Homo sapiens: one gene and its partners. Changing the gene in region 1 together with any one later gene gives a genetic interaction. Each region holds a gene or a part of one and is shown on either strand. Other genes may lie near its edges. The genes, in order: GEMIN5, RBBP4 and RUVBL1.

Evidence for each region.
Region 2: changes in GEMIN5 (region 1) and RBBP4 together harm fitness less than expected from each alone (positive genetic interaction), as found in Homo sapiens cells (one large-scale study listed by BioGRID).
Region 3: changes in GEMIN5 (region 1) and RUVBL1 together harm fitness less than expected from each alone (positive genetic interaction), as found in Homo sapiens cells (one large-scale study listed by BioGRID).

What each region holds. Positions count from the first base shown.
Region 1 is NC_000005.10:154,889,976-154,893,280, reverse strand, and holds part of GEMIN5 (gem-associated protein 5), read left to right. Parts: intron 1-731; coding exon 732-894; intron 895-1,538; coding exon 1,539-2,040; intron 2,041-3,305. UniProt on the Homo sapiens protein: The SMN complex catalyzes the assembly of small nuclear ribonucleoproteins (snRNPs), the building blocks of the spliceosome, and thereby plays an important role in the splicing of cellular pre-mRNAs.
Region 2 is NC_000001.11:32,657,702-32,661,356, reverse strand, and holds part of RBBP4 (histone-binding protein RBBP4), read right to left. Parts: intron 1-3,655. UniProt on the Homo sapiens protein: Core histone-binding subunit that may target chromatin assembly factors, chromatin remodeling factors and histone deacetylases to their histone substrates in a manner that is regulated by nucleosomal DNA.
Region 3 is NC_000003.12:128,117,272-128,120,926, forward strand, and holds part of RUVBL1 (ruvB-like 1), read right to left. Parts: intron 2,144-3,655; coding exon 2,057-2,143; intron 1-2,056. UniProt on the Homo sapiens protein: Possesses single-stranded DNA-stimulated ATPase and ATP-dependent DNA helicase (3' to 5') activity; hexamerization is thought to be critical for ATP hydrolysis and adjacent subunits in the ring-like structure contribute to the ATPase activity.

The DNA of each region.
Region 1 (3,305 bases):
TTTTTTTTTTTTTTTTTTTTTTTTTAGAGACGGGCTTTCACCTCGGGTGATCCGCCCGCCTCAGCCTCCCAAAGTGATGGGGTTATAGGTGTGAGCAACTGCACCCAGCCTTTATTTTGTTTTTAATTACAGCTTTTAGTTCCAGAAACTCACTTTTTGTTTTTGTTGTTTGTTTGTTTGTTTTGAGAGGGAGTCTCACTCTCATGCTCAGACTGGAGTGCAGTGGCGCAATCTCAGCTCACCACAACCTCCACCTTCCGGGTTCAAGCAATTCTTCTGTCTCAGCCTCCCGAGTAGCTGGGACTACAGGCACGCGCCATCATGCCTGGCTAATTTTTGTGTTTTTAGTAGAGGCGGGGTTTCACCATGTTGGCCAGGCTGGTCTTGAACTCCTGACCTTGTGATCTGCCCACCTTGGCCTCCCAAAGTGCTGGGATTACAGGCATGAGCCACCGCGCCTGGCCCACTTTTTGTTTTAATTAAATGCAAATGTAAAGGTGTTTTCTCAGTGTGAACAGACTTTAACACCGGGACGTGTGTGTGCTGCTGTGCAACTAGACATGAGAGTTTCCGATGTGGGAAGCAAAAATGGGTGGCGGAGACAAGAGGAACTTTCAAAGTGTGAATTGTGTGTACTTGTTTCCAAATGCGGTTCACAGGAACAGTTTGGTGGCATCCTCTGCGCCTACCGTGGGAGGATGTTTAACTCAGACTCTGGCTTCTCTCTCCAGCTCCTGCTTCACATTTGCCATGACTTGACCCTGGCAGTGCTGAGCCAACAGATGGCCTCCTGGGACGAGGCTGTGCAGGCGCTCCTTCGGGCGGTGGTCCGGAGCTATGACTCAGGGAGCTTCACCATCATGCAGGAAGTGTACTCAGCCTTTCTCCCTGACGGTAAGTGACTTCCTGCTGCCTGAGGCACACCCTTTAATGGACAACATCACCACCATTAGTGGTGTGGCACTGGGAGTACCTAGATTCTTAAAAGATGGAGATTGGCCAGCTGTGTCATTTTAGTAGAAAGTTTGGATTCTCTTACCGAAGCTTTTAAGAACAACTATACTGTTTCCTTTACCTGGCCCTACCCTCTTACAGCCTCCTGTCCACTTTCCACAAAGTTTAAGGGAGAGAGAAATAGGAATGTAGTTACATGTTAGTAAGAACAGAAAAGAACAGCAAAAAAGATAGACATTCCTTGGGCTGCATAGTCAGTCACTGAACTAAATCATTGTGATTTTTCAGAGAGACAGTGTGATCTGTTGTCGTGGCCCCAGAGCCTTCAGTAGTACAAATGGAATACTCTATCATGCTTTGAATGACTCCTAGGATGTAGTAATGAGAACACTGTCGCAAGCCAGGAAATGTTTAGCCTCCAGTTGGCTCTTGGTGGAAAGGCATGTGGCCCGGTGGATCACACTGTTGTCCTTTTTCCTGGGGTCTGCTTCTTGGTTGATAAGAAATAGAACATAAGGGCAGGAAGCCACATTTCTGGCAACTAGAGAAATGCATGACCCAGTATCTTTTTCCTCTTTTCCTAGGCTGTGACCACCTAAGAGACAAGTTGGGGGACCATCAATCCCCTGCCACACCAGCTTTCAAAAGTTTGGAGGCCTTTTTTCTTTATGGGCGTCTGTATGAATTCTGGTGGTCTCTCTCCAGACCTTGCCCAAATTCCAGTGTCTGGGTAAGGGCTGGTCACAGAACACTCTCTGTTGAGCCAAGCCAGCAGTTAGACACTGCCAGCACTGAAGAAACGGACCCTGAAACTTCTCAGCCAGAGCCAAACAGGCCTTCAGAACTAGACTTGAGACTCACAGAAGAAGGTGAGCGAATGCTGAGTACTTTTAAGGAGCTCTTTTCAGAAAAGCATGCCAGTCTCCAAAACTCACAGAGAACTGTTGCTGAAGTCCAAGAGACCTTGGCAGAAATGATCCGACAACACCAAAAGAGTCAACTCTGTAAATCCACAGCAAATGGTCCTGATAAGAATGAACCGGAAGTAGAAGCAGAGCAGCCCCTCTGCAGTTCTCAGAGCCAGTGGTAAGTACTGAGGCAAGTACAAGACGGAATGAAAAATGACCCTGCTGGCTAGGAACAGTGGTTCATGCCTATAATCCCAGCACTTTGGGAGGCTGAAGCAGGAGGATCACTTGGCCCAGGAGTTCACCACCAGCCCGGGCAAAAAAGCGAGACCCTGTCTCTACAAAAAAAAAAAAAAAAAAAAAGCCCGGGCACAGTGGATCACGCTTGTAATCCCAGCACTTTGGGAGGCCGAGGTGGGCAGATCACTTGAAGTAAGGAGTTTGAGACCAGCCTGGCCAACATGGTGAAACCCCGTCTCTACTAAAAATTAGCTGGGTATGGTGGCACATGCCTGTAATTCCAGCTACTTGGGGGGCTGAGGCCAGAGAATCGTTTGAACCTGGGCAGCAGAGGTTGCAGTGAGTCAAAATCGCACCAGTGCACTCCAGCCTGGGCAACAGAGGGAGACTTCATCTCAAAAAATACAAATAAAGTAACCAGGTGTGGTGGCATGTACCCTGTAGCTACTTAGGAGGCTGAGGCAGGAGGATCACTTGAGGCCAGGAGCTCAAGTTCAGCCTGGGCTACATATTGAGACCCTGTCTCTAGAAAAATTAATTTTTTTAAATTAGCCAGTAGTGGTGGCATGCACTTGTAGTCCCAGCTACTCAGGAGGCTGAGGTGGGAGGATCACTTAAGCCCAGGAGTTCGAGGCTGTAGTGAGATACGATCATGCCACTCATACCAGCCTGGTTGACAGACCCTGTCTCTACAAAAAAAAAAAAAAAAAATTAAATTTTAAGAAGCCAGGTGACAAAGGAATTTTATTTATAAAATGAGATAAAAGTAACCCAGGCAGGGGCATATGCTCTCAGGGCCTCCTGAGGGCTGTGTCATAGGCAAAAGTTTAAATTTTTAAAAAATATTAAAAATAAAAGGTAAAAGCTACCCAGGCATAACAAAAGATAATCCAATTCAAGGATGGGCAAAGGACTTGAATAGACATTTCTCTAAAAAGCCAGTAAGCACAGGAAATGATGCTCAACATCTCATCATTGGGGAAATGCAAATCAAAACTACAGTGAAGCAGCACTTCATAGCCATTAGGCTACTATCAGAGAAACAGAACAAGTGTTGAGGAGGATGCAGAGACATTGGAACCCTTGTGCCTATTGGTGGGAATGTAAAATGATGCAGCCACTGTGGAAAACAGTACAGCAGCACTTCCTCCAGAAATGTAAAATAGAATGACCATAGGATCCAGCACTTCCACATCTGGGTAT
Region 2 (3,655 bases), on another chromosome or scaffold:
CGCCACTTTACTCCAGCAACAACAGTGACACTCCATCTCAAAAAAAAAAAAAAAGGAACTAAAAATAGAACTACCATTCAACCCAGCAATCCCATTACCGGGAATATACCCAAAAGAAAAGAAATTGTTCTACAAAAAAGACACGTGCACTTGTATGTTCACTGTAGCATTATTCACAATACCAAAGATACGGAAATCAACCCAAGTGTCCATCAATGGTTGACTGAATAAAAAAATTTTTTTGGCTGAGTATAGTGGCTCATGCCTATAAGCCCAGAACTTTGGGAAGCCAAAGTGGGTGAATTGCAAGAGCCCAGGAGTTTTCAGACCAGCCTGGGCAACGTGGTGAGACCTACTCTCTACAAAAAATACAATGGAAATCAGCTGGGCATGGTGGCGCATGCCTGCAATCCCAGCTACTCAGGACGCTGAGGCAGGAGGACTGCTTGAGCCCAGGAGGCAGAGGTTGCAGTAAGCGGGGATTGTGTGACTGCACTCCAGCCTGGGTGACAAAGCAAGACTCCGCCTCAAAATAACAACAAAAACTCAATCATTTAGGAAAAAAAGGCTGGATTCTGATTCCATACCAAATACCAGAATGACAAAAGTTTTAATGGCCCAAACATAAAAGTCCCAGAAGACAACAATAGATGAACACATACTTTATGAAATCATTGAATGGGAGGTCTGAGGTGGGAAGATTGAGGCCAGAGTTCCAGATCAGCCTGAGCAACATAGTGACATGCCATCTCTTAAAAAAAAAAAAAATTAAGTTATCTGGGTGTGGTGGTGGGCGCCTGTAATCCCAGCTACTTGGGAGGCTGAATCAGGAGAATAGCTTGAATCTGGGAGACGGAGGTTGCAGTGAGCAGAGATTGCGCCACTGCACTACAGCCTGGGCGACAGAGCCAGACTCCGACTCAAAAAAAATAAATAAATAAAATAAAAATCCAGGTATGGTGGTGTATGTCTGTAGCCAGAGCTACTTGGGAGGCATAGGTGGGAGGATCGTTTGAGCCCATAAGGAGGCTGCAGTCAGCTAAGATCATGCCAGTGCACTCCAGTCTGGGTGACAGAGCAAGGCTCCATTAAAAAAGCAACTTACAGCTTCTAACCAATAACAGGACTTAAGATTTTAAGTTAAACAAGAAAATGATCTGCACCTATTTATTGGGTGGAGAAGGTATAATTTACCTTATATGAAGAGGTAACTCAAAAGGAAATACGGGCAAAAAACATAAATAAACAGGAGATGTAAGCTCAACATCACAAATAAAAAAAGCAATGTAAACTTGAGAATGAACTCTACTGAGTCCAGTGTTGGCAAAGGCATGGAGAAACAGACATAAATACATACGCTGTTGTGGGACTTCAAATCTTTTTCTGGAGTGCAACTTAGCAGTATCAATTATATTAAAAAACGGTCCTGCCCTTTGATACAACATTCTACTTAGAAAGTATTTCTATAGCAAAACTATGCTTTTGAAGTCAAAAAATTAGAAACCATCTAAATGTCTATCAGTAAGGAATAGTTAATTATGGTCTACTATACAGCCATCAAAAGGAGGCAGGTCTCCATCTACTAACAAAGATACATGCCCCAGATATATTAGGCCATAAAAGCAAATTATGAACCTATATTGCATATTCTATACCTGGCATACAAAATTACTCAACATATTTGTTGAATGAGTGATCCAATACACAGGATAAATCCTTCAGAAAACAATACATCACAATACATCCATTTAAGTGATATCCAGGGGAAAGGTTTTTCTTTTGTTTTGTTTTTGAGACGGAGTTTCCCTTTTTTTTTTTGCCCAGGCTGGAGTGCAATGGTGAGATCTCGGCTCACTGCAATCTCTGCCTCCCGGGTTCAAGTGATGCTCTTGCCTCAGCCTCCTGAGTAGCTGGGATTACAGGTGCGTGCCACTGCACATGGCTAATTTTGTATTTTTAGTAGAGACAGGGTTTCACTATGTTGGCCAGGCTGGTCTTGAACTCCTGACCTCAAGTGATCCACTGGTCTCAGCCTCCCAAAGTGCTGGGATTACAGGAGTGACTCACCGCACCCGGCCAGGGAAAGGTTTATTATATGGGAGAAGGGGTGCGTTTTTTACATTGTGTGTAAAATTACATATATATGTAAAACCACATATATGTGTGTGTATACATTTATATTGTGTGTGTGTAAAATTACATATATTTTATATATATAAAATTTATATGTATATATAAATTATATATATTACACACAATATAAATATATACACATGTAGTTTTACATATATAATTTATATATTTATATATAAATATAATACATTTATATTATCTAAAATTATATATAACTATATTTTACACACAATATATACACGCATGTAGTTTTACATATACATACATATATACGTATGTTTATATATAAATATAACATTTATATTGTGTAAAATTACACATATAATTTTACACACACAATATAAATATATACACACACATATATGTAGTTTTACAATTTATCACACTACCAATCAGAGTATTTGTGCCTCAGTAACAAGAACAAAAGGCAGGAGGATCATTTGAGGTCCGGAGTTCGAGACCAGCCTGACCAACATGATGAAACCCTGTCTCTACTAAAAATACAAAAAATTAGCCAGGCGTGGTGGTGCATGCCTGTAGTCCCAGCTGCTTGGGAGGCTGAGGCAGGAGAATCGCTTGAACCTGGGAGGTGGAGGTTGCAGTGAACTGAGATCGCGCCACTGCACTCCAGCCTGGGCAGCAGAGCGAGACTCCATCTCCAAAAAAAAAAAAAGGAAAGCGTTTAAGCATTTCATGAGCAGTTAAACCCTTAGGTTATGGCCTAAAAACAGGATATAATTAAACAACTCATTGGAACTTAGTTTCTATACACATAGAGAGTGCCATGGTTAAGTCATTTCTACCACTTTAAACCTAGAAAGGGTAATTTAAGTTAGTGTTTCTCAACCTTTTTTTTTTTTTTACTATTGCTCCTCTAAGAACTCTTTTAAGAACTATTCCCTCCCCACCAGTCCCATGAAATTTTAATACCATAGATATCCTATGTCCTCTGTGCATATCTGTGCTTTAAACAATCAACCAGTAAGATTATTTACACCTACTCACATACACAAACCAATTTTCACCTCCTTAGGGGTAGTTATCTCCCGTGTTAAGAATGTATAGCAATATGGATGGGTGCAGTGGCTCACGCCTGTAATTCCAGCACTCTGAGAGGCTGAGGTGGGTGGATCACCTGAGGTCAGGAGTTCAAGACCAGCCTGGCCAACTTGGTGAAACCCTGTCTCCACTAAAAATACAAAAATTAACTAGGCGTGGTGGCGGGCGCCTGTAATCCCAGCTACTCAGGAGGATGAGGCAGAAGAATCGCTTGAACCCGGGAGGCGGAGGTTGCAGTGAGAGAAGATCGTGCCACTACACTCCAACCTAGGCAATAGAGCGAGACTGAGTAAAAAAATAAAAAATCAAGAATGTACAGCAATAATATATATTTTTGCTTCTTTCAATTGCAGAAATCCTCCCCACCAGCACCAGCTGAGAAAAGTTTATTGTGAAGGTACAGAACCAAGGATGTGTTAAGTATTTCTTCTGATACCTAAAACTCTAATATAAATATAAATAC
Region 3 (3,655 bases), on another chromosome or scaffold:
AAAAGACAAAGAGGACAAAACGAGAAGCTCTAGCCCAGGGTTTCTCAGCTTGACTCCATGACGTTTGTGGCCAGATAATTCCTTATTATGGAAACTGCTCTGTGCACTACAGGATGTTTAGTAGCATCCCTGGCCTCCACCCACTAGATGCCAGTAGCACCCCCAACCAAGTCGTGAGAACCAAAAATGTCTCCAGACGTTGTCAAAGTCCCCTGCAAGGGCAAAACTGCCCCAGGTTGAAAACCACTGCAATCTTAACCTCATCTCAGTGGAGTTCCAGAAGGAAAGAACAAAGAGAATGGGGAAAGGCAATAGCTGAAGAGATTAACGCTGACAGTTTTTTTGTTTTTTTTTTTTTTGAGACGTAGTCTTGCTCTGTCACCCAGGCTAGAGTGCAATGGCATGATCTTGGCTCACTGATACCTCTGCCTCCCAGGTTCAAGCGATTCTCCTAAGGCTGACAATTTTCCAGAATTGAGCAGAGACATAATACTCAGATTCAAGAAGCACAATTAGCATTAAGCATGATAAACAAAAATTAATCCACTCTGACATATAATAGTGAAACACCAAACCCAAAAATATCTCAAAAACATGCAGAAAGAAGACTCAAAACCCTCAAAATTAGACTTCTCAAAAACAACAGAAGCCAAAGGAGCAAATAACATTGAGAGAGAAGTACTGTGAAACAGTACTGAAGAAAATATCTGTCAACTGAATTATATAGCCAACATAGCTCTTTTTCAAAACAAGGGCAACATAATGAATGCAAACGTGAGAGACTTTCCCACCAACAAACTTCTAGAAGAAATTTCTAAATTATTTACTTTAGGAAGAAGAAAAATGGAGGGAAAGAGAAGGTCTAAGATATAAGGAATAGCAAGCAAATAAATGGTAAATGCACTGGACAAGCTAATGTTGCCTGGAGAGAGGTAACTGAAGCTCACATCTGTATGGCACTTTACAGTTTAAAAAACTGTTCACAATTTGCTTTTATATAGGAAGAGAAAAAACTGTTCACAAATATAGCACTTCTTCCTCTTGTAAGATACCAATATAAGATACACAATCAGTAATCATTTCAAAATTATAATGCAAGTCATTATCTTACAATCGATCAGTTTAATAATTGCTTGAAATAGGTAGAGTATGCTTTTGCTTAGAAAAGTTAAGGGACCTGCCTCAGGTCTCATAGCAAGTCAATACTAGAGCTGGAATTTAAAGCCCATTTCTTTTCACACACAACCCCAAGCTCCTACTTGCCCACATCAAGCGGCCCTTTTGAAGAATAAGCAAGCTCAAATTGGGAACTCTGGTGAGTTTCAAGTATCTGGCCAGTCCCCTCACGAATCCCAAGAAGCCACACGGTGTCCTCTGCCTGAAAGGCCCTTATCTTCCCTGCAAAGCCAAATCCTCTCCCAGCTCTGAAGGGAAAATGTCAAGTCTCAACCCTTCCAGCTGTACCAGCCCACAGTGCTGCCTCCTTAAATTCCAGCTGCATTTAATATTAGTCAATACCTCAAAGCTGAGCACTCATACTGAGTCCTCCTGTGCTGTCATGATTTCCTTTCTTTCTGCCCTGGAGAGACTGTAAGCCCCTTGAAGATAAAAATCATGTCTCTAATTCTTGTTTTCCTTTTTTTCATCTCCCACACAGCCACAATAGCGATGCGTAAAGCTAGCATTTGGAAGAATGCTTGACTCATTTTTTTGTCCCCTCAAGTAAGATGTCACTCAGAAGATCTTTATGAAGCCCTAGGCCAACAGAAATGTATTTCCACAGCAAAGGAGACTTGAAAGAGAAAAAGGACAAATTCTAGAGACAATGAGACCCCTTCAAGGACTTCATTCTTTCTTCTCTGGAGGTAGGCCAGGATAATTTGAATTTTAGAAGCAGGGATTTTAGATACCCAATTGTATTATTGCATATTAATTTTAAAAACATACATATAACCCATTTAGCTAAACAAAGACTAGTTAAGACATGAATTCAATTTGGCTTAGACACTAGGATCATTCTCCTGGGTAGATTTAAAAAATGAGAGAAAATGAGTACCTTGCCAGTTCCAGGAGGTCCTGCCAACAAGACAGCTCTTCCAGCCATTTTCTTGCTTTTGATTAATTCTACTATGACGCCACATGCCTACACACCACAATGGAAAGAAATAATAAATCAATATTAAAATGTTTCACAAGGGGAAAAATCTCAGTCCCTGGCCTACACAAGTCACACACTCATCCAACTAACACTGAGTGCCAGTGCACTGCAGTCACTGTTCTAGGTGCCGAGGGTAACGAAGGCAAGGCAGAAAAGCCTTGTACTTGTGGAGCTCATGTTTTAGGGAGGGATACAAACATACAAACATTGCACACATAATCTTCATCACTACTATGAAGAAAAAGGGATGATGAGAGAGAACGAGTGGCTAGAAAGTGATCCTGGAGTGTCTTTCTGATGACATTTAATTTGATATGTGAACCTCTGGGAGGAGCAGGAGTCAGCGTTCCAGGCAAAGAAAACAGCGAATTCAGAAAATCCAAAGCAGAAACAAGCTTGGCATATCCAAGGGACAGAAAGGTTGCAGTGACCAAAGTATAGCGAAAAAGACCAGGAAGATGAGGTTGAAGAGGTAGACAGCGGCCAGAACGCAGAACAGGAACTTACAGTGTGTGGTAAAGTTTGGATTTTATTCTACATAAATAATACAAAGCCACTGAAAAGGTCTTGAAGACTATGTGTCATGCTATGATTTGTTTTTAAAAGATGGTGCTAGCTACTACTGTGTGAAGAATGCACAGTATGAGTACAAGTGGGAACACTGATTTTTGGCCCAGGGTACAGGGATAGACGCCAGGGGCCCAAATACCTCTTGAAGTTGGGAACGAAACTGTGTTTATGTTCATATATACATTTTTTCCAGAGAAAGGATCCATAGCTTTCATCAAATTCCCAGAGTAACCTATTAAGGGGTAAGAATCAATGACATAGAGTACTAGCTGGCCATCAGTGAACACTGTAAATACTGAATGTGAAGTTAAACCTATGGCACTATTAGATCCATTGAATATGTTTTGAATCCTCAAGGTTAAATTACTTTATCATCTGTTAGTATATTTTAAATACATTATAAATCTCTGAATTTTATTAACCATTTGCAGTACACATGTGTGTATATATACACACACATATTCCATAAATGGGCTATGGAACTTCATATATTTTAGAATATTTGACTATAAGGGGGGAACACTGAGAAAGTTACACTAGCTGAGCATCTATATCTCAGGATTACATAATATAAGGTTTGCTACACTGATTTAATAACTGAATACGTGACTATCTAAAAGGTGCTCTTCTCTCTGGGCAGTGACCACACTGTGCCAGAGTCTTGTGAATACATCTTATCTCTTCTACCTCTATTCCTCATGGACTGTGAAGTACCTTGGTCCCACACTTATGGCAGCCCCTCAAAAAATATGTAAGGACTACAGGCGCCTGCCACCATGCCTAGCTAATTTCTTGTATTTTTAGTAGAGAAGGGGTTTCACCATGTTAGCCGGGATGGTCTCAATCTCCCGACCATGTAATCCACCTGCTACTCGGGAGGCTGAGGCAGAAGAATGGCGTGAACCCAGGAGGCGGAGCTTGCAGTGA